Homo sapiens: one gene and its partners. The protein of the gene in region 3 interacts with the protein of the main gene of each other region in a pairwise test. Each region holds a gene or a part of one and is shown on either strand. Other genes may lie near its edges.

What was found.
Region 1: the proteins of TMX2 (region 3) and TRAM1L1 interact in binary tests that used the Homo sapiens proteins (3 or more experiments, as listed by UniProt).
Region 2: the proteins of TMX2 (region 3) and SLC35A1 interact in binary tests that used the Homo sapiens proteins (3 or more experiments, as listed by UniProt).
Region 4: the proteins of TMX2 (region 3) and RNF24 interact in binary tests that used the Homo sapiens proteins (3 or more experiments, as listed by UniProt).

Annotation. Positions count from the first base shown.
Region 1 is NC_000004.12:117,083,020-117,090,085, forward strand, and holds TRAM1L1 (translocating chain-associated membrane protein 1-like 1), read right to left. Parts: upstream 2,558-7,066; 5' UTR 2,375-2,557; coding exon 1,265-2,374; 3' UTR 535-1,264; downstream 1-534. UniProt on the Homo sapiens protein: Stimulatory or required for the translocation of secretory proteins across the ER membrane.
Region 2 is NC_000006.12:87,468,472-87,476,007, reverse strand, and holds the start of SLC35A1 (CMP-sialic acid transporter), read right to left. Parts: upstream 3,035-7,536; 5' UTR 3,005-3,034; coding exon 2,989-3,004; intron 1-2,988. UniProt on the Homo sapiens protein: Transports CMP-sialic acid from the cytosol into the Golgi apparatus, functioning as an antiporter that exchanges CMP-sialic acid for CMP. Binds both CMP-sialic acid and free CMP, but has higher affinity for free CMP.
Region 3 is NC_000011.10:57,736,593-57,741,507, forward strand, and holds the end of TMX2 (thioredoxin-related transmembrane protein 2 isoform 1 precursor), read left to right. Parts: intron 1-1,015; coding exon 1,016-1,076; intron 1,077-1,193; exon of another isoform or gene 1,194-1,320; coding exon 1,321-1,434; intron 1,435-1,761; coding exon 1,762-1,838; intron 1,839-2,071; coding exon 2,072-2,178; intron 2,179-2,381; coding exon 2,382-2,447; intron 2,448-2,517; coding exon of another isoform or gene 2,518-2,538; coding exon 2,539-2,668; intron 2,669-3,506; coding exon 3,507-3,653; 3' UTR 3,654-4,381; downstream 4,382-4,915.
Region 4 is NC_000020.11:4,005,557-4,012,590, forward strand, and holds part of RNF24 (RING finger protein 24), read right to left. Parts: intron 1-7,034. UniProt on the Homo sapiens protein: May play a role in TRPCs intracellular trafficking.

The DNA of each region.
Region 1 (7,066 bases), on a different chromosome or scaffold from region 3:
AATATTTAGAGATGAGAGACATAGTAGGAGAAAATATAACGGAATAGGAAATATATGGCCTTCCCCTAGCATATTTGTAAAGTACTGTCTTACTGAAAAATTATATAAACACATTATGGAAATAAAACTGAAATAAGGATTGAGAGGCAATACGTATAAATACTCACCCACTAATTCCCATTGTTTCCATTGGCTTCTGCAAAGATACAGATTATACATACATGTGTATGTAAATAATCTTCAAAATATGTCTTATACAGATAAATGTTCCCCAATTAAAGATGAAGACAAATAATCACAACATTATTTTTCAAAAGCCTTTCATGTGACTATCTGATTTTCAACTTATTGAAGGTTGATGCATAACATGCTTTCCAAATGTAATTAGCTGACTTTTTTTATACACATGCCAAGTATTATTTTTCAACCTGGTATACAAACAATATTTTTCTAAGATGCTGTGGTTACTGATCTTACAAGGCCTCATTAGGAATCATTTTTAATAAACATTTTTAAAAAAGACTAAGTTCAATGTCCTTTTTAAAGTAATATTTAATTTCATGAATTCCCATTTACAAGTGGAATGGACAGGAATGATTTTAATATTTTTATATTAATTAATGATATTTTGATGCAATATATATGGCAGCAAACCTCCATATGTGTTACCCATTAGTACTGTGTTTTTTTAAATGGGGATGAAGCACTAATAATCACTACCTGTAAAATAAAGAACATTTATTATTTTGGTGAGTCTAGCAATCTTTTCTGAGTTGTAAGTTCTTAAAAAATAAATTCTAACAATTACAGAATACTGATTTGACTTCCACCTTTTTCGTACTTTTATTTTACCCCAAAGCAAGCATTAAACACATAATCTTGCTAGGAGAGACCATCTTGTTAGTATTATGAAACACTGGTGGGAGTAAGAACCAGTATCATTGATATGCAAAATTGTGCAGTTATCTCTGCAAATCATTAGGAAAATGTTGAAAGGTTAAAAATCAAAACAAAATATAGTGGTGATCCCCAAAACTATTTTGACATTATTTTGACGATGAGTAATTTAGTCTCAACCAAAATCTTTTTTTCCCATTCATAATAATCCTCCTCCCCTCAAATGTCTTTAAAAAATACATGAAACAGTTCAATAACAAAAACCGAAGAGCACGAACTATTTTCAAAAACAGAAAAATCTCTAGTGCAGAAAGAAACCTCAAAGAGCAGATTCCTTTGCAGACATTAATCAATGCGCTTGCAAAGATTATGAAGATTTCTCTTTCCTCTTTGGCGGACAGTCTACTCTATTTGAAGTTTCCACTCCCACTCCGTTTTCTGTTCTTTTTTTAGAAGATCTCGACCGTTTCTTTTTCATACATGAGGCCTGAATATTAGAATCTTCTACCCACCTCTGAAGCCAGAGAGTAATTAAGTTCCATGTTACGTAGGCTTGGATCGTGCAACTGGACGACAGAACAGCAATTTTAGCTGCCAACACATTTACATTTCCAGTAAGGGCATCAGGATTCCGATTCTGCGATCCAGCCAGGTGAAACCCAACAGTGAGTACGGAAACAATTAAAGTCACAAGTCTACCCAAGATAAACACAATGGCCCACAGAGATATGCCTTTCTGGTACTTTTCATCACTAAAGTAAAACAGGCCGCACATGTGGGAAAGTAATTCAACAAAATAATGCAGTACCAAAAGAAGAAGTCCCAAATGATTCAAGTACAAGAGATAAGCTCCAGTAATGTGGAAGAGGTGAAGACCAATGTAGACAAGTTGACGAGGGATGTCTTGTTTTTTGGTTTTCTGGAAGTAGAGTTCAGGAAAAGCATGAAACCAGTAAGCCAACTGGGATATGTAGAAAAACTTCATTTGAAATGTCATCATGCTATGGGGACGAGCCTTCCATATAAGAGTTGGGTCTGACAGGCAGTTTTCAGAGATTAAAATGAATGTGCCCCAAATACAAGAAAAAAAGTAGAACACACTAAACTGACCAGACTCGTTAAACTTGTTTTGTTTCGCTTTGGTGAACTGCATTCTCTTGTTAATTTTATCCAACACATATTCCTGAATTGTGGCATGAATAATGATTGCCACCAGCATGTAGAAGAAAACCGTGGCCAAATCTTTGACACCATAATAATAGAGGGACTTTGAGCCCGTGGCTTGTTCCTCTGCTGCAGGGACAGCAACACTGTGCTGAAGAGTGAGAAACACGATGGATGCTTCTGCTGTTCCCTCGAACACAAGCCCCAGCAGGAAGAACATCCCCACGCAGGAGACGATGTCCGCATGATTCTGCAGGATGAATTCCTGGCTGAGAACGGGGGGGTTCTTGGTGCTCTTCTTACGGAGCCCCATGGTGGCGCTTCCCGGATACTCACCGGCGAGCCGCAGCTGCCTCCCCCTGGCTGCTCCTCACAGCGCCGCCGCCACGGTAGCAGCTCCGGGGGCTCCACTTCCCATCCCGAAGTCAGTCCCGGGTCGCAGCGGCCGCCCAGAAAAAAAATAAATCAAAGGCGAGGGCCGAGCTGAGCTGAGCATGCGCACCAGGGGGACGGCGGAGGCAGGGAAGGAAATCGAGCGCCGCGCCCCTACCCGGCGCCAGGCCCGGGGTTGCGAGCGGTGATCTTCAACGTTGATCGTCGCATCTTCAAACTCGCTGCCACCGCCAAGATGCTCCTGAATTCTTTTTTTTAGTGGCATCTTCATTAGTAATCATGATAAACCTATAGAGCTCTGGTTATTCTTCAGATCATTAATTATAACAACAATAGCATAATAATAACAGCAAACTCCCAGTACTAATTACCAGTTGCTGTGCTAAGCATTTTATTTATATTTATGAATTTAACTTTCCTGAAACACCCAGTGAGGTAGATACTGTGATAATCTCCCCTCCCCCACCCCTTTTCAAGAGACAAAACACTGAGGCACAGAGAGGTTAAGTAATATGGCCAAATTCACCTCCCTAGTAAGGGTTAGAGCAAAGATTTAAATCCAGTCCGGCTCCAGAGCGCCTGTTTTTCACTATTACGCTGTATTGTCTCTTATTGTAAATCAATTATACCTGGAAATATTTACTAGGTCAACAAGATAGCATATTAAAACTAGTTCCCCTATTTGCAATAATAATAATGTTTGAAATGATAACGTCTAGCCAGTATTTTGAAAGACTGGCACTTAGAGGGAGAGATGTATTAGTTCATGGAAAGGTCTCTTTTTGGCTACAAAGCTCAAAACTTAATTTCTTCATTATAACAGAAAAGAACCTCATATGTCATTTGTGTAGGTTTTGCATATATGGAGGAATTGTGAATTGAAGTTTCCCAAGACTTCACGTAGGATTTGGAAACTTTCAAGACTGGAACAGCCAGAAAGTAGAATCCTCATTGAACACTTGCAACATTCAGACAAGATCCAAGGAAAGCTACACTGTTTTAAGTAAGGCTAAACTTGCCCTAAGGATAAAGCTAATTCATGCTTATAAACACAAAGTTTATAAGAAGCCTTGAAAAGGTTAAGGTACTCTAGGACTGTCTACCAGAATGCCTACTTATGGCCTCTAGGTGCATTGTTGGCATTAGCATGAAAGGGTGGCTTAATGCTCCAAAAGTGGGATTTCTAGCAAGCAAGACAGAAAGTAAATGGCCTTTTATGACCTAGTATTAGAAGTTATATTATATAATTTTCAATACCAAGGTAGGCACAAGCCTGTTTTACTTCAAGGTGGAGTGAGGATGGAGGGGAGGGTGTGGACCATACACATCAACTTTTAATGAGAAATGTACCTAGTATTTGCTAATTTTTTAAAAATAGCCACATCCTTTCCGTTGGGAATAAATTTTGTTTCCTCTGACATGAAATATACACTTTTTCCTTCCAATGCAAACAATAGTCTCATATCAATATAGCATCAGGTTCAGGCTTCTTACACAGGATATTTTTGTAAGCTAAATCAGATCCAGGAGCAGATAAAGGAAAGTCCTATCCTTTGTTGTACTTACTCTTGGTCTGAAGACTTGTGAACTAAAAGAATAAAGTTTTTGGCTCCCACACACCCAAAGCGTAGGAAAAATGCAACAGACACTTCCATCTACGAGTGAGAAAATGGATGCACACAGCAGTCAATAATCAATAATAACTATAAGATACATCCAGGTAAAGTTCCTAGATTTTGGTTTGAGTCCAATCTTCCTTTCTAGGAAATGGTGAAAGATTTTTTTCCCTAAAACATGGATTAAATATTATAAGTTGATTTGTTTCTGTATGTTGGCTTGCATATATTAAAAGATAAAAGACACTAGAAGCCAAATAGTGTTAACGTAATACTGTTTATCTTTGTCTTTGTCATGTAATAGTCATTGATTATAGAATTAATTCTGGAGTATTAATTACACATTAATACTTCAAGGAATTAACGTTGAATAAACAAGTTTACAGGTGGAATCAACAGAACAACATATGAATCAGTTTCTGATTATCCTCAATCTTTCTTGGTCTCATGTATTCAGACGATTGCCAGGCATTGGTCGAATTATCTATTTAAAATGCTATATTGATTTTGTTATAAGAAACATTTGATTTAAAAATATCAATAAAAGTTCTCACGATAGTTAAGGTACTGTATTTCAAATAGGTGTTAATAATTAGTTCTTGCTGTTAGCTATGCAATACAACCTTTTGATGTCTGTATTTTATAACTCAATATTATTTATATGAATAGCTTAGCTATAAAAAGCTCTTTTAAATTAGTTATGTGTCTTTTAAAATAATTACCTTAAAATATAAACTGACATTGATTCTGATTTTGCTAAAATAGTAAAGTACAGAAGAAACATTATAATATAGAGGTAGCCTCACTTTTCAATATTTTTATATCTAAGAATAATATATATGTGTATATCTCTATAATACCAACCTTTTAATAATTTAAATTTGGATTATTCAATTACTTGAATTGAACATTAATATTCCAGAATTCAGTTGCATTTGAAGAAGCAAGAAATGTTGCTTTGAACTTCAAAATATCAGACCCAAGTCTGATTTTTAAATCGATGTTTATAATTAACATTTATAATTGACTGAGCTCACCAAATGCTTAGCTCAATTAAGCAAAAAAATACAGTTTATCTTGTGCATGAAATTACAAAGTCTCTTGGGATTTGATTGACTTAAAGTTTTAAATAATTTAATTAAAGATATATTTATTATTTTAAAGTCATTTTTGTAATTGATAAGACATGTTAAAACATGAGCTTTTAGAAGAACACACCCTATGCAATATGGCTAAATATTTATCGTAATAAGGAAAACTCAACATAATATTTACAGCTTTTAGAATACTTATTTGCCCATGGATTTATTAGTAACATACCAAGAAAAAATATGAAGCACTATCTAAGGATAAACTCCTGGAACAGGTTAATAGTGTCAGTCTCCCACTAAAATGTAAGAATTCATAAAATTAAAATCAATATTTAGTAATTTATTTTTTCAATTGCCCCTTTTATGGGTGAAAATAAACCTTATACCCATCCTCATGGAGCTTACATAATAATCAGGGAGAACTAGAGGACACAAACAGTACAAATATGTGTTTGCAAATAGCCAGTGAAAATTGCTGGGAAGAAAATGTGGATAAGAAGATGAAGCATAAATGATGATAACTATTTTAGGTAGAGTGGGCAGGGACAGCCTCTCTAAATAGGTGATATTTGAATAGAGATGTACATGAAGTTAAAGTAAACTATACAAATGTCTGGAGGGAAACATCCTAGGACGTAGTTCAAACGTTACCAGGCAAGAGCAAGAATGATTGTCGCATGAACAGCAAAGGGGCCAGGATGACAAGAATGTAGTAAGGGAGAGGGATGATTGATAAAGTAACAGAGATCATTAGGGGGCATTTCTTATAATGCCTGTAGGCCAGGGTTAAGGAATTTAAAGTTTGGTCTAAGGTCTAAACATTGTAAGTATTGTGTTAATGGATTACTTCAGCTTTTGTGAGATATACTATTTGTGGAAGCTGCAAAACTACAAAAAGGCCGTTGTATAAATTGTAATTTGCAAACATTACACTGAACTGTTGTATTTTTTATTGTATTTTTTAAAACAGTCTCTCTCTCGTCTCTCTTTGTTTATATAAAATATTTCTTTGGTTGCTGCCTGTGAAGTAACTGATGTGGAATATTCCTCTGATTCTACTACTCTTCCAAAATTTCAGTTGTATAATATATATGGCATGACATATGACAGAAAAACCACCTTATACATTTTTTTTACATGAAAAAACAATGCTGCTGTGTTTCTATTTGGTGTCTAGTAGGAACGTTAAATTGCAGCTTGATGATGTCTTCAAAAAATCTACTTCCTCCTTGATGGAATCACTGCCTCCCTAATGATTCATATGGAATTTCAAATTTTTCTTAACTCACTAAGGGTGTATATATACACTTACACAAAAAATGAAAACCAAATGAAAAATAAAGAAAAGATCATTTTAGCATTATTTTTGTAATATCCTTATATATCAGTGCTAATATAGATGAAAACATCAATAGTATTTTAACTCTTTTATCAACTTTCTGACCAAAACAATCCAACTTTAATAAACTACCCATACAGATAAAAATTATTTTAATTCTCATTGGAAATGCCTGTATTCCCTAGTTTTACAGAGAAAAAATGATTCTTACAGTTATTTGAATCCTTGACAGATTCTCCCTCAAGGTGTGATGATGTAGACCTACCTAAGGGTCACACAACACCAGAGCTATTTTAGTGTTTCCCTAAAGGTAAACTTCCATTGAAATTTTTTACTTCTAACATACTTGTATTTTAATCTTTGAATCTGTGCTTTAAAACATATGCTCAGAGACTAATAATCCTTATACATAGCTAGTTTATATGATTCATTTAGATAGTCTGGAAATAAAGCATGTGTTTCTCTTTAATTGCTTGGAAATTAATAAGTATTAGAAATATTAAAAATTAAATTATAATTGCCCAAATATTTTTGGCACACTTTAAACAGATGAGTATTTTATACTG
Region 2 (7,536 bases), on a different chromosome or scaffold from region 3:
ACTATTTCTACTTTCCTCACCCACCTCCCACCTATTGTCCCCCAGTTCCCCTTCACCTCCATTCAAATCTTTAGGCTCAAGGTTAAACAGGGATCAGCAAATTTTTCTGCAAAGGGCCAGAAACAAATATTTTAGGCTTTCCAGAGCCATACTTTGACAACTCCAGGTTAAGAACCAGAAGGACACCAGGTGACTCCAGCCTGCTACTTTAACTACATTATATGCTAAGTAAGATTTTGTTCACTGCTTTGGGAGCCTAATCACAATTCAAAGATAGTTTTCATAGGGAAATAAAACAGGAGTTTCAAACAGATTATCTTTAGATACAGTATGGTTGGATCTTACAAGGAAACAGGTTCTTCAATATAAATATTTTCCCGAGTGCATTAAAGAATATTTTCTGAATTGTAGGCAATTTTTAAAAACCATATCAGGTTTTAAATAAAAAGTAAAACAGAAGAAATAGTTTTTAACTGCTTAAACTTTCTTTCCAAAAGATCTGAGGAGCCAAAAAATCAGTGTTTATATAAAAGGAAGTGAAGGAGATCACTATAATACTTCCTTTGTTCTAAAACTTTCCTACACAAGGGAAGAAATATGACTTCAAAAATATACAGCAATAACCTTTAATCAGTAGAAGAGAAGGCACTTCCCATCTTCTAGATAAAGGGTGAACAAACTATATATGTCGCCAGTTTACATGAGGCCTGTGAACTCACGATTGTTTTACATTTTTAAATGGTTGATAAAAAATGTAATAACATCTTGTGATATGTGAAAATTGCAGGAAATTCAAATTCTAGTGTCCATGAATAGTTTTATTAGAACATAGCCATGCTCATTTGTTTCTAAATTATCCAGGCTACTTTTTTTTCCCTACAACAGCAGATCTGAGTAGTTATGACAAGAGACTATCCAGCCCTTCACAGGAAAAGTTTGCCATCTCATGTCCTAGATTATCAACACTTTCATAAATAAGAGAAGTTAGGGCTGATAAACTAAAAAGTACTTTATTTTAGCTACTGTACAGGTTCCTGATTCCAAAAACAACAAAGTGAATATTTAAACACTAAACCAAATATTGATAGCCTACAAACATATTCTGACTTATAATATTGTCATTAACTTGAAAAAATACCTTTTTGCATAGTGAGTATATGGGAATATATATTATATTCTTGAAAATAACTACTGATCTAAGTGGAAGGGTAATCAAATAAGTTTAGGTATGTGCAAAACAGATTGGGCTTTGACATGGAATACCAGTTTTTAAACGTATTTCAACTTTTAAATACTAAATGTTTTTAAGTACGATTTTCTCTGGCAGTTTAACATCAGACCAAACTATTTCTTGTTCACTCCATTCACAAATTCTCCAGTATAAAACTTCAGTTATTAGCAATTTCAATTATTTCAGGGTAACAGCAAAAGTCCATATGTAATCACTTCAAATTGGGCAAATAATTCAAATCACACCCAATGCCAGTAACTATAAAGCTAGCCCACAACTCAACTGGCAGCCACATCTTAACCCTGCATTGTTCCCTGCTTCTCACGAAATTCTATTAGCTCCCATATAGTGTTTGTGTGGAAATGTCCCCCAAAAGAAACTTACAGTTTAAAATGTTTTTTTTCGGTTATGTTTTACTATAGTTTATGGGGACATTATTTGTAATACTTAAGAACTTAGAAATTCTGTAAGTCCCAGATAAATCCTTTGTGGATATTCGGAAACTATGGAAACTGTAGTTTTGTTAGGATTACAATCAAGGCTCAACAAATATGTATTGGCAATAAGCCTAAACCTTTACATTGTTGCAGCTATTTCAAGTAATGATTTGACTTCTGTAATTTATAAGTTTTCGTTCGGATCAATTTTGCTATCCCCATTCCATTTTAGTTATCAAAACAATTCTATTTCTTTTTCTTTTATTTCCTGTGTTGCTACAAAAAAAGGCTTTTAAGATTGGACTTATTTGAAATGAAACAGAAAGAAGACATAAGAGAAGCATATGCAACTAAAGACAATGCCCCTGGGCAGGGCCTGATGAGAAACATGGACCCCGCAACAGGGAAAATAACTTGAAACCCACGCAAGAAGATATTCCTTATGTATTCGTTCAATATTTATTCAAGGGTGAAGCCAAGTGCTCTATGGAGGAAGGGTGGAGCAAGAATCCGGGTGTTGCCCAACTTCTCCTGGTTAATGCACCACAGTCAAAGAATCCACCTCTGGTCCCAACTTACACACACTGCTCAGCAAAAAGTGGTGCGGAGTCAATTAGACTCGCCCTCCTTAAATGTCAATTAGTCAACAAATACGCCTTCACCCGAATGTGCCATCCCTCAGGAGGAGGGAGGTGGATCTCAGCTTCCACCCCAAATAGCAGCATACAGCATTCTCTATAATTACACACAGCATACAGGTGGGAACTGTTAACGACTGTTATCTTCCTTTCGTTACGATTTCAGTGCTGTTTTGACGCCCCAGTGATGTCTTTAGTGGTTGTTGCATGGCCCAGCCGCCGCATGGGATCTGCGCCCGGAGCCTGCCTTTAAGCCTCTGAGCATCCACAGGGTAGGAGGCGCAGAGGAGACCGGAGCCGCGGGGCCAGGGTGAAGAACTGTCCTGCCTCGCTGGGTAATGCGGTCCAGCCCCGGACCCACGCCCTGGCCTCTCTCCGGGTCCGCCGCAGCCCCGGCCTGTCAGAATTCGGTTCCCACCCACTCCCAGCTAGTGGAGGTCAGTGCGGTCTCTGACTCCGACCTGCCCAGCGCGGAGTCAGCCGCGGAGACTGCAGCCGCAGCGGAAGGCAGGCTGCCCTGACTGCCGGGAGCGGCTCCACGCAAACTCCTGACGCCTCAGCCAGGCCCCAGAGGCACTGGGCAACCAGGGTGCTCCGCTGCCCGACAGGGGCTGACCAGCGCAGATGCTCGCCCGCCGCCGCCCCCCGCGGACTCCCCACTCCCAGCAGACCCAGTTCTCACCTCTCGGGGCAGCCATGGTTCCCCGACAGCCCCCCGCGGAACTGACGCCCGCCCCCTCCGCGCCCCCGCGCAGGACACCGGGGACCGCCCCTTGTGGTCATAGAGACGAAGCCGCTCGGCCTAGAGCGCCTCGCCGGCCTCCCGGTCGGCCACGCACTAAAACTGGGCTCAGGAATCCAAGCTACACCCCAAAATGGGGAGAACGCGGATCGAAGGGAGGCCTTCCCGGCCGCGTCCTAGGTGACAGGTGTGTGAAATTCGGTTGGGGAGGTAGTTCTGTAAACTGCGTCTCCCCGCCAGCTAAGGAAGTTGAGTGAAGGGAGCGTTGCCGTCTGGGAATCGTAGTCCTCACAAAGGCGTGAGTAGGCGGCAAATAAGGATTTGGGTTTAGCCTTGGGGATTCACTCCTGTCAAAGCTGTTAGAGAAGCTCCCAGAACTCGTAAAGTAACAGAAACTACTTGCGGCAACATTTGTAACTTCCACCTGGCTCATTATCTTCCACTGTTACCTTGTGTTCTAGATAAGTTATAATTTATTCTACATATCGTTCAGAAGTCTTGTGCCTGTTCCATATCGTCAGCAGTCATCGGTTGTATTTACCCAGCCAGGCATTCTAACTAATGATCTTCGCACAACAAAACGGCCTTTAAAAAATCAGATGTATCGGCCGGGCGTGGTGGCTCACGCCTGTAATCCCAGCACTTTGGGAAGTCGAGGCAGATGGATCACCTAAGGTCAGGAGTTCGAGACCAGCCTGGCCAATATGGCGAAACCCCGTCTTTACTAAAAATACAAAAAATTAGCCGGGCGTGGTGGCGCGCACCGGTAATCCCAGCTACTCAGGAGGCCGAAGCGGGAGAATCACTTGAACCCGGGAGATTGCAGTGAGCCGAGATTGCGCCCCTGCACTCCAGCCTGGGCGACACAGCGAGACTTCGTCTCAAAAAACAAAAAAAATTAGATATATCAACAGGCATTTTAACCACTATAATCTCCACTTTCACTAGGGGATGTTAATTAGCTATCATAATTGATATTAGAAATAATTCATTGGTGAAATAAATGATGTTCAAGATATGTGGATTGGTTTAAAATAATATGAAAATACCTCAGCACTTACAGGAATAGGGATGCAAGATTCTGAGCTGCCCAGCAGCCCACACCTTCTGCAGCATGTTCTTTCCCCAAAATTGTCCTTTTAGAGGGTTGGTTGTATACCATTGTCTTGTTAAATATACATATAGATATATCTGGTCTGTTAACATTGTTGGAACATTTTGCATGCCTTATTAGCATCATATTAATATTGGGAGGGGCTCCCAGGAGACCAGAGTTGACTTTGTAGAGGCAGACATTTGATTAATCTCATTTTGCAATAGTGTTGGACTTTTCCTCTACCTGGTAGTAAGTGTGCTCACTGGTGCTAATCTTCCCTTATTGTAATTGATACAGTTTCCACTAGTAGAATTATTCAGTTCTCTACTGTGTATGTACTTATGCATACATTTAAACAATATTCATATATGTACGTGAAATTAATTTTAAAAATTAAAAATATTATATCATATAGTCCTTCGTTTTACAGCTACTGCTTTGTATGGTTTATCTTGTCCCATTTTGGACTATCATTATAGTGTCAGCTTACATCAATTAAGTATAATTTCTAAATGCTCAATTTGTTCCAAAAGGCACTTGTAAGCCTGCCTCTGTTTTCAAGTCTGCACCAGCTGTTTTTACTTTTTTTTTTTTTTTGTCTTTTTTTCTTCTTGTAGAGATTGTGGGTGGGGGCGTCTCACTTTGTTGCCCAGGCTAGTTCTCGAACTCCCCACCTAAAACAATCCTCCCACCTCAGCCCCCCAAAGTTCTGGGATTACAGGTGTGAACCACCACACCTGGCCTGCACTAGCTTTTTGAAGCATGTTTTAATTTCTGGCAACAAGAGGTTTTGTTTTTTCCTGTCCTAGGTGGTAGAATCAACTAGGAACTATCATTCCTTCTGGTGAGGAAGCGCATTTTACACACACACACATGCACACACACGCACACGCACACACACACACACACAGAGATCCCAATTAAAGTGGTGGGTCAAATGTTGCTGAGCCATTTTTGTGGCATTTCTGGTTCACATAACATCATGCTGTTGAATCCTACTTTTCTTATACATTTTCATTGCCTCAAAAGACTATTATACTTCACTGGCATCAAACTTAACTAGATTTTCATGCCTCTTTGTCCTAACCCAGTTAGCCCAATACCAACAGGACAAATCTGCCAAACTATAGTCTGACAAAGTTGAGCTTACTGATGCCTTCTGATATAAAGTGGGTATTTGTCCCTGCCCAGATGTGATGTTGAATTGTAATCCTCAATGTTGGAGGTGGGGCCTGGTGGGAGCTCTGGATCATGAGGACAGAACCCTCAAGAATGGCTTGGGCCATCGCCTTGGTGATAAGTGAGCTCTTGCTCTGAGTTCACAGGTGATCTGGTGTTTTAAAAGTCTCTCTCTCTCTTTCTCTCTCTCTCCTGCTCTGGCCATGTGATGTGCCTGCTCCCACTTCGCCTTCCACCATGAGTAAAAGCTACCTGAGGCCTACCCAGAAGCATATGCCAGCACTGTGTTTCCTGTACAGGCTGCAGAATCATGAGCCAATTAAACCTATTTTCTTATGCATTACTCAGGCTCAGGTATTTCTTTATAGCACTGCAAGAACCACCTAAAACACATTCCAATGAGGGAAACTGAACACCAGAGGTATCTCAGGAAACAAAAAAGATAAATTTATAGAATTTTAGGGAAGGATGGGATTAGGTGAAATTTAAAGGAAGCAGTGTTTGATAAACTCAAAGCAGGACTATATGTATCCAATAGGGACTGTAGAACAGTCTCAGGATCCTGTTTCTTGAAAACTACAAAGTTACCATAGATGTGGAATGTTGTATTCAGGAGCCCCTTAATTGAGGCTGCTTCTTTGTATGAAAATGATGTAGATCCCCCCAAGCAAAAGTAGGGTGTTTCATTCTTACTGATGTAATTTCAAGCAGCAAGTTTTCCTAGAGTATATGATTTTAGAGAACAAAGTTTTTCAGTGAATTAGAAAGCAAACACTCAAAGAAGGGCCTTGCTATTATACTTTATAGTGTCAGCATATACTTAGTTATTTCCCATTAACTTTGCAGCAGGGTTTACCTGGGTTTGTTATCCCAGCTCAATTAATGACCAAGCAGCTATTTACAGTCTTACTCTGAACTAATTTTTACTTTCTCACTCTGAATTATCCTCAGTCTTGGAGGAAAAAAATATTGATTTAATGTCTTTCTTTCATGTGTGCCTAGTTTTCCTTACAACTCTGGTTAGAGAAAGCAGCAGCAATCCTTAACATATGAGATACAAGCCCCTGTGCCTGATAAGATAACCTTACAGTGCTTCAAGCAGCCATTGCTAATGCCACTTGAGTCCCTAATGATTTCTGATTGTCACTAGAAAACTACAGTATTTGCCTCAATCCCCTGCTCTCTTCCATTTCCTGCTCATGTATCAGAGCTACCCTAGTCTCAATGATGTATATAAAAAGAAGCCCAGTACTGTATCCATTGGTAATAAAGTAAAAGTATGAACTTAATTAAATAAAAAGGCTGTGAGGAAGCAAATACCAAAAGGCTTAAGGAGGTTATAATTGAATTCAAATATGGTAGCTATATAATAGATTATTAAATGTGGTAATGTTTAAAGAATAGTAAGCAGTTAACCATAAAGAACATATATAGATATAGATACCAAAAGAAAATTATTTCCCTGACAGTTTAAGCATATTTCTTTCATTGTGCTATTAAGCATCCAAAACCTATTTGCTAAGTTATTGTTTTTATTTTATTTATTTTTATTTTTTGAGACAGAGTCTTGCATTGTTGCCTGGGCTGGAGTCTAATGGCACAATCTTGGCTCACTGCAACCTCCGCCTCCAGGGTTCATGCAATTCTCCTGCCTCAGCTTCCTGAGTAGCTGGGATTACAGGCACACACCACCACACCCAGCTAATTTTTTGTATTTTTAGTAGGGACGGGGTTTCACTATATTGGCCAAACTGGTCTCAAACTCCTGACTTCCTGATCTGCTGCCTCAGCCTCCCAAGTTATTGTTATTTTAAAGCAATTATTTCCTACAGTATAATATGACTAAAAAGCCAATAATTGTCACATTTTATAATTGATAAAAGGATACAGGGAGATAATGTAAAATTCAATGTCTGGATTAGGAATTAAACATGAGTAATAATCATGTGTATCCAGACATTTCATATTTGAGCTTAACTATCCCTTGCCTCTCTTTTCTTTTTTCATTACCGTAATCCCTCTTTCCTTTTCCTGCCAGTCACTGATGGTTTGTACCTATTTCTACCATTTTATGCTTGCTTTGCATCAATGGTATTTCCACTCAAGCCAACTCTAGGAAAAGAGAGTTTGACAATTGCCTACTCCACTGATAACTCTAATCCATCATCCTCTTTTGTTATTCACCATTTTTTGAAAGTCATAATGTGCCAAGC
Region 3 (4,915 bases):
ATTAAGTAATGGGGGCCGGGCTCGGTGGCTCACACCTGTAATCCCAGCACTTTAGGAGGCCGAGGCGGGCGGATCATCTGAGCTGAGGAGTTCCATACCAGCCCGGGCAACATGGGGAGACCCGGTCTCTACAAAAAATACAAAAATTAGCCAGGTACAGTAGTGTGCGCCTGTAGTCCCAGCTACTTGGGAGGTTGAGTCAGGAGAAACACAAGCCCAGGTGGCAGAGGTTTCAGTGAGCTGAGATCACACCATTGCACTCTAGCCTGGGCGATGGAGCAAGACTGTCTCAAAAAAAAAAAAAAAATTAAACATGTGGAATAGCTAGATATTATATTAATGGGCTATTATCAAGAAAACTTACCTGGAAAAGTTTTATTCTACCAGCGTCACATTGAGTTGATATTAATAATCTTACGATTTTATACCATATCATGCTTTATACAACTCTTTTTAATCTGTTATCTCATTTAATCCCCCAGTAGCATTTTGAAATAGATACTGTTCAGTTGAGGAAACCAAAGCTAAGGGATTAAGTGCTTTGTTGAAAAGCACCGCAGGCCTGGCGCGGTGGCTCGTGCCTGTAATCTCAGCACTTTGGTGGATCACCTGAGGTCAGGAGTTTGAGACCAGCCTGGCCAACATGGTGAAACCCTGTCTCTACTAAAAATAAAAAAATTAGCCGGGTGTGGTGGCGCATGTCTGCAATCCCAGCTACCTGGGAGGCGGAGGTTGCAGTGAGCCGAGATCGCGCCATTGCACTCTAGCCTGGGCAACAAGAGTGAAACTCTGTCTCAAAAAGAAAAGCACCAGCAAGTTTGTGGCAGGAGTAGAACCTGAATCCAGGTCTTCTGACTGATGTTTATCCCCGTACACCTTACCTAACTGCAGTTCTTTATTGTTCCCATTCCCAGTTTGGATCGCTATTGGTTTTTATTACATATTTAGTTCCCTTTCCCACCTAAGTTAGCTCTAGTCACTGCATTCCTGTTATAATACTTCGATTCTGTTCCAGAGAGAAGTGGAGATCCTGATGTTTCTCAGTGCCATTGTGATGATGAAGAACCGCAGATCCAGTAAGTTTAGTTCACTTCTCAGACTCAAGGTTAGATCTAATGCCCTTTGGAGGTGCTTTGCTTCATGTTAAGAGAGTGGCAATCATTTGGTAAATTTGTCCTACGTTTAATTCCAAGGCTGAATTTGAACTTGGACTTCTATCCCCTCCCTGTCTCCTATTTCAAAGTGCCCCATGAAGAGGGACAAAGAATGGGATATAGGAGTGCACAGCCCAGCCTGACCTGTGACATCTCTGTGTTTCAGTCACTGTGGAGCAACATATAGGCAACATTTTCATGTTTAGTAAAGTGGCCAACACAATTCTTTTCTTCCGCTTGGATATTCGCATGGGCCTACTTTACATCACACTCTGCATAGGTGAGGAGACTGCCTTTCTTTCTTTTTTTTTTTTTGTAAGACTGTGTTGATAGACTTGATTGTGGAAACCACAGTCCCAACAGTTGCAATCCCAAACATGTTTCTCCATACCCTTCTTCCATATCTCATACCTAATGAATTATATATGTAGCTCAGATGATAACAGTTTACAGAGACTGTTATTGTAGAGGTAGGGAATGTGTTGGTGGTCTACATATATCCACAAGTGTGTATTATTTGGGGGCTGAAATCCTTGGGTTGGTTTGGAAGTAAATTCCCTGTGTAAGGCTTTTTATGTTTCCTTCGACATCTTCTTTCTGTATTTAGTGTTCCTGATGACGTGCAAACCCCCCCTATATATGGGCCCTGAGTATATCAAGTACTTCAATGATAAAACCATTGATGTGAGTGCTCTTTCCCCTTTCTGTTTCTTGGGTCCCTTGTGGGTGATTTTGTAGTTGTGCTCTCCATTCACTAGGAGGAACAACAGTGCTTCAAAATGGATGTCACGGGCACTGTGGTTCATTATGAGAGCCGGGGGAGAGGGAACACCAGGATGAGGAATTAGATGCTAAAGTCTGAACCTTCCCAGGAGGCTATGTGGATCCAGCTGACTTTTCTTCCCTGTATTTGGCAGGAGGAACTAGAACGGGACAAGAGGGTCACTTGGATTGTGGAGTTCTTTGCCAATTGGTCTAATGACTGCCAATCATTTGCCCCTATCTATGCTGACCTCTCCCTTAAGTGAGTAGTGCAAAGGGAGGGATGGTGGAAATGGAGATGCTGTGCCTTCCCTCTCACTGTTTTTGGCTTTTCTTTTTCTTTTGGCCTTGATTTTCACACATGGTAACCAAAGGCATCTCCCTCTCCCCTCTTAAATATCTATACTTCCACTTTCCTTGATCCATTATTTTTTTTCAGCATATTAAATAATATATTCTTTTCAGATACAACTGTACAGGGCTAAATTTTGGGAAGGTGGATGTTGGACGCTATACTGATGTTAGTACGCGGTATGTAAAGACCTGGGCAGAGGGTCTGAGCAGGGAAATCACTTTGAGTGATACATACAGGGACATTTAGAGAACTTTCTGGGCCCTGCAGGTACAAAGTGAGCACATCACCCCTCACCAAGCAACTCCCTACCCTGATCCTGTTCCAAGGTGGCAAGGAGGCAATGCGGCGGCCACAGATTGACAAGAAAGGACGGGCTGTCTCATGGACCTTCTCTGAGGTACCTGAAAGGAAGGGCAGGTGCATGAAGGGTGCAGAACAGTAGGTGGGCTTTCAAGCCCTACCCGGGTTTGATTCACAGCTCTGCCACTTGCCCATTAGCTTTGAGGGTGTGGACTAGTTACTAGACCTCATGTTTTAATTCATTTAGCAAATATATATTATGTGCAGACCTGCTAGTACTGGGTAACAATCATTAGTTAAGATTTGGTCTCAGGCCAGGCACGGTGGCTCACGCCTGTAATCCCAGCACTTTGGGAGGCCGAGGCTGGCAGATCACCTGAGGTCAGGAGTTTGAGACCAGCCTGACCAACATGGAGAAACCCCGTGTCTACTAAAAATACAAAAATAGCCGAGTGTGGTGGCGCATGCCTATAATGCCAGCTATTTGGGAGGCTGAGGCAGGAGAATCGCTTGAACCCGGGAGGTGGAGGTTGCAGTGAGCTGAGATTGCACCATTGCGGTCCAGCCTGGGCAACAAGAGACTCCATCAGGAAAAAAAAAAAAAGATTCTGTCTCGAAGGCCACTGCACCTATTGTCTGTAGGTGTTAGGTTCCCTGTCAGTTAATTGGAGGTAATAACCCCTGGCTTACAGGGTTGTTTTGCAGATTACATTAAATAATTTAGGTATAATTCTTGGCACGGTGATTGGCACATAATGGGTATTTAACTATTAGTTGACTTTTCTGGGTACCTAAAAAAGAGGAAGGTTAGGGAAGATTTTTGTCCTTTGCTTACTCCTTCCTTTCCCAGACTTTGTGTAAAATACCTCTTACTTCCCAGGCTCTTTACTCTCCCTTCCAACCCAGATCCTGACGTGTGCATCTCTTTTGTGCAGGAGAATGTGATCCGAGAATTTAACTTAAATGAGCTATACCAGCGGGCCAAGAAACTATCAAAGGCTGGAGACAATATCCCTGAGGAGCAGCCTGTGGCTTCAACCCCCACCACAGTGTCAGATGGGGAAAACAAGAAGGATAAATAAGATCCTCACTTTGGCAGTGCTTCCTCTCCTGTCAATTCCAGGCTCTTTCCATAACCACAAGCCTGAGGCTGCAGCCTTTTATTTATGTTTTCCCTTTGGCTGTGACTGGGTGGGGCAGCATGCAGCTTCTGATTTTAAAGAGGCATCTAGGGAATTGTCAGGCACCCTACAGGAAGGCCTGCCATGCTGTGGCCAACTGTTTCACTGGAGCAAGAAAGAGATCTCATAGGACGGAGGGGGAAATGGTTTCCCTCCAAGCTTGGGTCAGTGTGTTAACTGCTTATCAGCTATTCAGACATCTCCATGGTTTCTCCATGAAACTCTGTGGTTTCATCATTCCTTCTTAGTTGACCTGCACAGCTTGGTTAGACCTAGATTTAACCCTAAGGTAAGATGCTGGGGTATAGAACGCTAAGAATTTTCCCCCAAGGACTCTTGCTTCCTTAAGCCCTTCTGGCTTCGTTTATGGTCTTCATTAAAAGTATAAGCCTAACTTTGTCGCTAGTCCTAAGGAGAAACCTTTAACCACAAAGTTTTTATCATTGAAGACAATATTGAACAACCCCCTATTTTGTGGGGATTGAGAAGGGGTGAATAGAGGCTTGAGACTTTCCTTTGTGTGGTAGGACTTGGAGGAGAAATCCCCTGGACTTTCACTAACCCTCTGACATACTCCCCACACCCAGTTGATGGCTTTCCGTAATAAAAAGATTGGGATTTCCTTTTGATTGCGCGTTTGTGTGTTTCTGTATTAGAAAAGCCTGACAACTGCAGAGGAATTGCCCATCTTAAGGGCAAAGGCCATCCTATTTGGTTTCACCAAATGCCGGGCATTGATCCCCAGGACTGGCAAGAGTTGGAGAAGTCTAGTTTCCATAAATCTAGAATAGCGGCCACATGTTGTTAGGTGGTGGGTTTACTCTGGGATTGGCCTGCGGTTGCCAGGGAGGAGAGTTTGGCGGCAGATGGTGGCACACAACATTTAGCGCCATGCAAAGGTACAGAAAAGATTGCGCGAAGCGAGGCTAGCAGTCGGACCTAGTCTCCGCCCCTTCCTGCTGTGTTCACCATCCCAGCGTCCCCTGTCCCCTCCACCCGAAGCGATGGGTGGTTCCGTCAGGCGCTTCCCGCACCTTCCCGCTCCCTGCTTGCAAAGTGGTTGTGCCCCAAGGTCCGCCTCCAGGCCACGTGGGTGCTGCGGGCCAAGCTTTCCCTTCCTTTGAGAGAGGTTTCCGCTGTAGGAGCAGAGCTTCCGGGCTGCG
Region 4 (7,034 bases), on a different chromosome or scaffold from region 3:
CATTAACTCATAATTTGACGTTTCATTATCTGTCAACTTTTTTCATTCAGTCCAAGATAAAGAGACTATTTAGATATAATATTTAGGTTCTATTTCAAATTTATATCACTGAGCATAATTTCACATGCTCAGATTTGGGAAGGAACAATAAAGAGATACAGGTAGCTATAATTTTTTTTTGGTTTGCCAAGATGAACTTAATAAACTTAACAGATACTGCAGCACCATTCAATCTGCACATTTGAAAAAAAAATTAAGGCAACATAAAGCATACTGATAGACAGCAGTGAAACTATTAATTTTGAGAATTCAATAAACACTGTCATCAAATGAACTGAATGCTCATTATTCTTACAGTATGATATTTGCACTTATTTTGCTGTCAATTAAACAATTATGATATTAAATCTGCTAAAGGAAGTGAAGAACTGTATCTGATACAAGCACCTGTCTAATCGGGAAAACATAAGTACCATCAAAATGAGAGACAAGCTAAGACTACATACATAATTAACCTTCTATAGAATCTATGGTTTATGGCTAGGTGTGGTGGCTCACATTTGTAATCCCCGCACTCTAGGAGGCTGAGGCGGGTAGAACACCTGAGGTCAAGACCAGCCTGGCCAACATGGTGAAACCCTGTCTCTACTAAAAATACAAAAATTAGCTGAGTGTGGTGGCGCATGCCTGTAATCCTAGCTACTTGGGAGGCTGAGGCAGAAGAATCGCTTGAACCCAGGAGGCAGAGGTTGCGGTGAGCAGAAAGAGCACCACTGCACTCCAGCCTGGGTGACAGAGCAAGTCTCTGTCTCAAAAAAAAAAAAAAGTCTATGGTTTACACAGGAGCAAGCTTTACAACAAGATGGAAAAATTTTCCTAATTCAAATGATCAAAACTTTAGAAGATGACAACAAAAGGAACGGGCAAACCTCACTTTAAGAAAAGTTGACAAATAAAAACAGGAACTTTAAAAGCAGGTAACCTGGAAGTTACTTACAATATAAAAACATTCACTACAGTTCATTGCAACTTTAATACACCTAACAGTAGTGAATCCATAAAAATTCAAATTACATTAAATTTCCAGAGCAAATTTGTAACACGAGGTTCACTTGTAACATTATCTAAATAGCAGTTTCCTTTCCCTTGCCACTGCAGGCTTTCTCCAACTCCCTGGGGTACTATGGAGGGCCAGTGCAACTCTCTGGTATCAGACTATCCTTAGGGCACATGGAGGGCCCAGGCCAGCTTTCCCAAGAGTGGCCAGCCAAAAGCAAGGCCACTGGCCAGCTATTCTTGGGCCAGCTGGCATGGAACAAAGTGTCTGGTTCCTACCTCCAAAGCACAGGAGGCTCTGCCAGCTGGCTTTCAAAGGACTGCACTAGTTGGAATGCTCACAGTTCCTTTCAAACCATCTGGCATTCTTTTAGAACCCTCAATTTACCCAACACTACATTCTGAGATTTGAATTGCTCAGATAATTGAAGGAGTCCCCACTACCTACCTAGGTAAGAAAAGAAAGAGGCAGAGCAAACGCTAAGTCAATTACTTCAAGAAACAGTTTCTACAACTAAAAACTGCTCTCAAGTTTAGCTTGTATATTTTGTATTTTAAAATCTAAAATATTCCCATGATTATTAAGCAAACTTTCAAAGTAAAAACCAAGACAAGTAATAAGAGAATAAGCTAAAACAGACTATTTAACATGCAGAAAAGCTGTAGGAATCCCTTAGGGTTAGAAGTACCTGACTCTCCCTAGCCTGAACTTCTACAGAGCCTGTCTGTATTTTTTATGTGGTCCTCAGAATATACTTCGTACTGCTACATATATTTACCCTCCCAGCTAGCTAGTAGATGAAAAGAACATTGTCTTATAGCTGTTTCAAAAGAAAAAAAAATCTGTTGATGATATATTGGGTGTTTTTAAAGCTCCATTTCCAGAAATAAGAAAACTTAATGTGGAATAACATGAAGAAAGAACCTCACCTCTGAGAAAACCAAATAAACAAAGAACAGGACTTGGCTTGAAATAAAAATATTTTATCAAGTGATCAAAATGATTTATTGGCTGGGCATGGTGGCTCCTGCCTGTAATCCTAGCACTTTGGGAGGTGCTGGTAGGGTCACTTGAGCCCAGGAGTTTGAGACCAGCCTGGGCAACATAGTGAGACCCTGTCTCTACAAAAAAAAAAAAAAAAAAAGAAAAAAAATTAGCCTGGCATGCTGGTGTGTGCCTGTGGTCGCAGCTACTTGGGAGGTTGAGGTGGGAGGATTGTTTGAGCCCTGGAGGTTAAGGCTGCAGTGAGTTGGAGATCACACCACTGCACTGCAGCCTGGGCGACAGAACAAGACTCTCTCTCTTAAAAACAAACACACCCCCGCCCCCCACAAAACCAAGAACAGCTGAATCATCATATTGATAGCCCATATACCCTAGGAGATATAGTATTTTGAACAAAAATATTATAGAGACCAAGTCAGAGTCAAATATTATAAACTGGAGGAGGCTATAATAATTACTATTATTTTTCATTGAGTTTACTCCCAAGACGAGTACTGAGTTTCGTGTTTTACATATTATCTCATTTGGAACACAAAACAAACACATGAGGTAGGAACTATTATTAACCACATTACAAATGAAGAAAGAGAGAGGTTAGGAAACCTGCTGGAGGTCACATAGCAAAAAGTGAAAGAGCTGGAATTCAACTCCAAGCAGTCTGATGCCAGAGTCCAGGTGCAAGACTGCAAATATATATATATATTATATATATAATATATATATTATACATGTAATATGTATAATATATATATTATATATATAATATATATATTATATATGTAATATGTATAATATATATATTATATATAATATATAATATGTATAATATATATAATATATAATATATAATATGTATAATATATAATATAATATAATATATATATTATACATATTATATATTATATATATATTATTTATATATATTATATATATATATATTTTTTTTTGAGACAGAGTCTCGCTCTGTCACCCAGGCTGGAGTGCAATGGCACAATCTTGGCTCACTGCAACCTCCACCTCCCAGGTTCAAGCAATTCTCTGTCTCAGCCTCCCGAGTAACTGGGATTACAGGCACCCGCCACCACACCCGGCTAATTTGTTGTATTTTTAGTAAGATGGGGTTTCACCATCTTGGCCAGGCTGGTCTTGAACTCCTGACCTCATGATCCACCCGCCTTGACCTCCCAAAGTGCTGGGATTACAGGCATAAGCCACCATGCCCGGCCCAAGACTGCCAATATTAAGTCATACTTATGAAAGAATGAAATGTAACATAGGGCAAAATTTGATCATTAATATATTCTTCATAATTGTTTCAATTCTTAAGTGTAGCAAAAAATGGTGAGTAATTAAAAAACATGGATTCTCTTGTTAGAAATTTTTAAAAATCAAAAGCTATTTTACCAGGTCAGTTGTGCCTCTTTTGCCCATGTACTGAGTAGACACTTGTGCCACCTGCTGTCCTAGGGGACAGAGTGGTAAACAGGACAGATGAGGTCCTTGCCTTCCTGGAGCTGACCTTCTATTAGGGGTAAGTCACACAAAAATTATTAAACAACAGAATTTCAGAGGGTGGTACGTACTATAGAGGAGGTAGGGAAGGCACGTAAACTTCTCTTTTGAGAGACTTAACCATGTAGGTAAATAGAAAGGGATAGAGGAGGGTCAGGGAAAAGTTGTTTGCTGAAGCTTATTCTGATTTTAAAGATGGGCAACGTCACGGCATATGTGTATGCTGACATGGATAGCCCCCTGGAGAGTTGCTGATGATGCAAGAGAGAGGGCAAAAATGCTAAAGCTGTGAGATATGAGGGGGCATGAGGTATAGAAGATGTGAGGAGGAACACAGTAGAAAGGGGAGCTTGCCTCCGACAGGAGACAGAAAACATGGGTCTAAGGAAGGCAGATTTCTACATTTGGTTGGGGGGAAGATGAGTGGTTTCTGTCTGATATCTCCTAAACCCTCAATGAACTATGAGGTCAGCTTATCTGAGTAGGAGGGGTGGGTTGCTGATAAGTTTAAGGAGTGGAGAGAAGTTATGAAATAGTGATAGGCAAAAAGATCTTATTAAGATTCAATGGTAGCTTTGCCGGGCAGTGCTGAGTGTCTACTTCGGATTTTTGGTCATGAATCTGAAGTTCTCTTGTAATATCCAGCCACTTGGGTGGTGTCATGGAAAAGCCAAATGAATGATAAAGCAGCTATAAATAGAAAAAAAAGGGTTTTTAATTTTAAAATTTTTAAAGAGTAAACAAAGGATGTTTTAAAAATATGTATCCAAATTAGCCAGGCATGGTGGCGGGCACCTGTAATCCCAGCAACTGGGGAGGCTGAGGCAGGAGAATCGCTTGAACCTGGGAGGCAGAGGTCGAAGTGAGCCGAGATCACGCCACTGCACTCCAGCCTGGGTGAAAGAGTGAGACCCTGTCACAAACAAACAAACAAACAAACAAACAAACAAACAAACAAACAAGGCCAGATGCGGTGGCTCATGCCTGCAATCCCAGCACTTTGGGAGGCTGAGGTAGGCAGATCACGAGGTCAGGATTTCGAGACCAGCCTGACCAACATAGTGAAACCCCGTCTCCACCAGAAATACAAAAATTAGCTGGACATGGTGGCGCACGCCTGTAGTCCCAGCTACTCGGGAGGCTGAGGCAGGAGAATTGCTTGAACCCGGGAAGCAGAGGTTGTGGTGAGCCGAGATTGCACCACTGTACTCCAGCCTAGGTGACAGAGTGAGACTCCATCTCAAAATAATAATAATAATATGTATCCATGAGATAAACACAAAAATACTGACAATGTTCTGTGAAGCTGTGATTTATGCAGCTCCTTTTGCTTCCATCTTCTCATCACAGAAATTCTTGCAAACAATATATTTGTCACATTTAATAATGACATATTTAATCATGAAGCTCAAGTTAGTTTCTTTTTGGTCATTTCTTTTTTTGTCATTTCCTAAGGTGGATTTTTAAAAAATGCACCTGACAGCCGTCATGTTGGTTCATTTCACTGCTTAAAAGAAACTCTCTCTGATGTCAATTGATATTTTCATTGTTGATTTCATTTAAAAGTAAAAAAACTTAATCCCCTCTCTCAATGAACACATACACATCTACAGTGCTTAATCTCAATGCCTAAACAGTGGTCACAAGGAAAATGGGAAGGGAGATGCTGGCCTGATGGCGCTGGGCACCTAGCAGTGCCAGGTGCATGTTCTTGATCTTGCAGCTGTGCTCTTAAAACACAATGCTCAAGATCCAAAACGTTCGGGGGAGAATTCCTGTCTGCACAGGTTCAAGAGGAGGAAACAAAGACCCCACTGCTTGATGGAGGCACAAAGAATAGCATATTGGGTGAGATGGGGGGAGTATGCACACACATACATATACAGCCTTTTTGGAAAATACAATCTACCCCACAAGCAAAAGTAAAGAAAAATATCTATTCCAAGGTACATCATGAAATGTCAGGAACACCAGGGATAAACTGAAGATCCTAAAATCTTTCAGAGTGGGAAGAAAAAGGGAATGAGGATTAAAATGACATTGGACTTCTCAATAGTGACACTGGAAGCTAATGGAACAATGTCTTCAAAACAGTCACATTAATTTTCAATCCAGATTTTAACACCAAGCTAAACTACCATTCAAGAGTGAAGGTAAAATGAAGGCATTTCCAGACATGTAACTTCTGAATTCAGGAAGGAATTTCAGATTTTGTATGTACCCTTTCTCAGGAAGCTACTCAAGAATAAGGAAGACACAGGGTCCAGGAAATAGAAGACCTAACACAGGAGGAAGGCAAAGGGAATTCCCAAGATGATGACAAAGGGAAGTCCCAGGATGATGGCTATGCAGTAGTCCAGGGAGCAAACAATTCCAGACTGGAGTAGGAGAGAGGGGGCTCCAGCAGGACCATCTCCTGGGGAAAAGATATGAAAGTGAGTGACTACCTGAGAATATTCAAAGATAATCAGTTTTGTCATAGAGTTTGAATGAATTAGTGACTGATACAAAGAAAACTCAGCAAATGAAAACCAAACAAACAAAAGAGGCAATTATTTAATTCAGGAGCAACAAAAGTTGTTCAAGAAGAAAACACAGTAATAGCACCCTACGTGGCTCAACTGTGAATAACAGGTACACTGTCAGTCATATAAATCCTGAATACCGACCTAACTGTCAAGTATGAGTGGGAAATGGAAGGATAGTTATGTGAGACAGTTAAGTCTTCAACTTCCAAAATAGAAGTCCACAGAGAATATCCAAAAGTGAAGAGCTAAGAAATAGCAGTATAAACATTAAAAATGAAATAAGTATAAAGGTAAATACCAAAAGAAACCAGTAAGAGTTGAGAGTGGTTTAACTATATAATATATAAGACTGCTGATTTTGATTTTTTCTCAGTCTCAACATGGCAATTTCATATGATTCAAGCTAACACATTGTAATAGCATTATTACTGATCTTAGAATAAACTCCCATTTAAAACAATAAACAATTATTGGCCGGGCGCGGTGGCTCACACCTATAATCACAGCACTTTGGGAGGCTAAGGCAGGCAGATGGCTTGAGGCCAGGAGCTCAAGACCAGTCTGGCCAACATGGCAAAACTCCGTCTCTACTAAAAATACAAAAAAAAATTAGCCAGGCGTGGTGGCCAGTGCCTGTATTCCCAGCTATTCGGGAAGCTGAGGCATGAGAATCACTTGAACCTGGGAGACGGAGGCTGCAGTCAGCCGAGATCACGCCACTGCACTCCAGCCTAGGGGACAGGGTGAGACTCCATCTCAAAAAAAAAAAACAACAAAACACCCAAAAAACAAAAAAGCAATTATTGATAGAGAATGCTCAATGGAAAAATAAATTACTTTTTATTATGAGACATTACTGGGAGGATAATAGATCCTAGTTAACAAAGTGTTACCATCTATGCTCTTACCATCACTAACATAATATTACTATT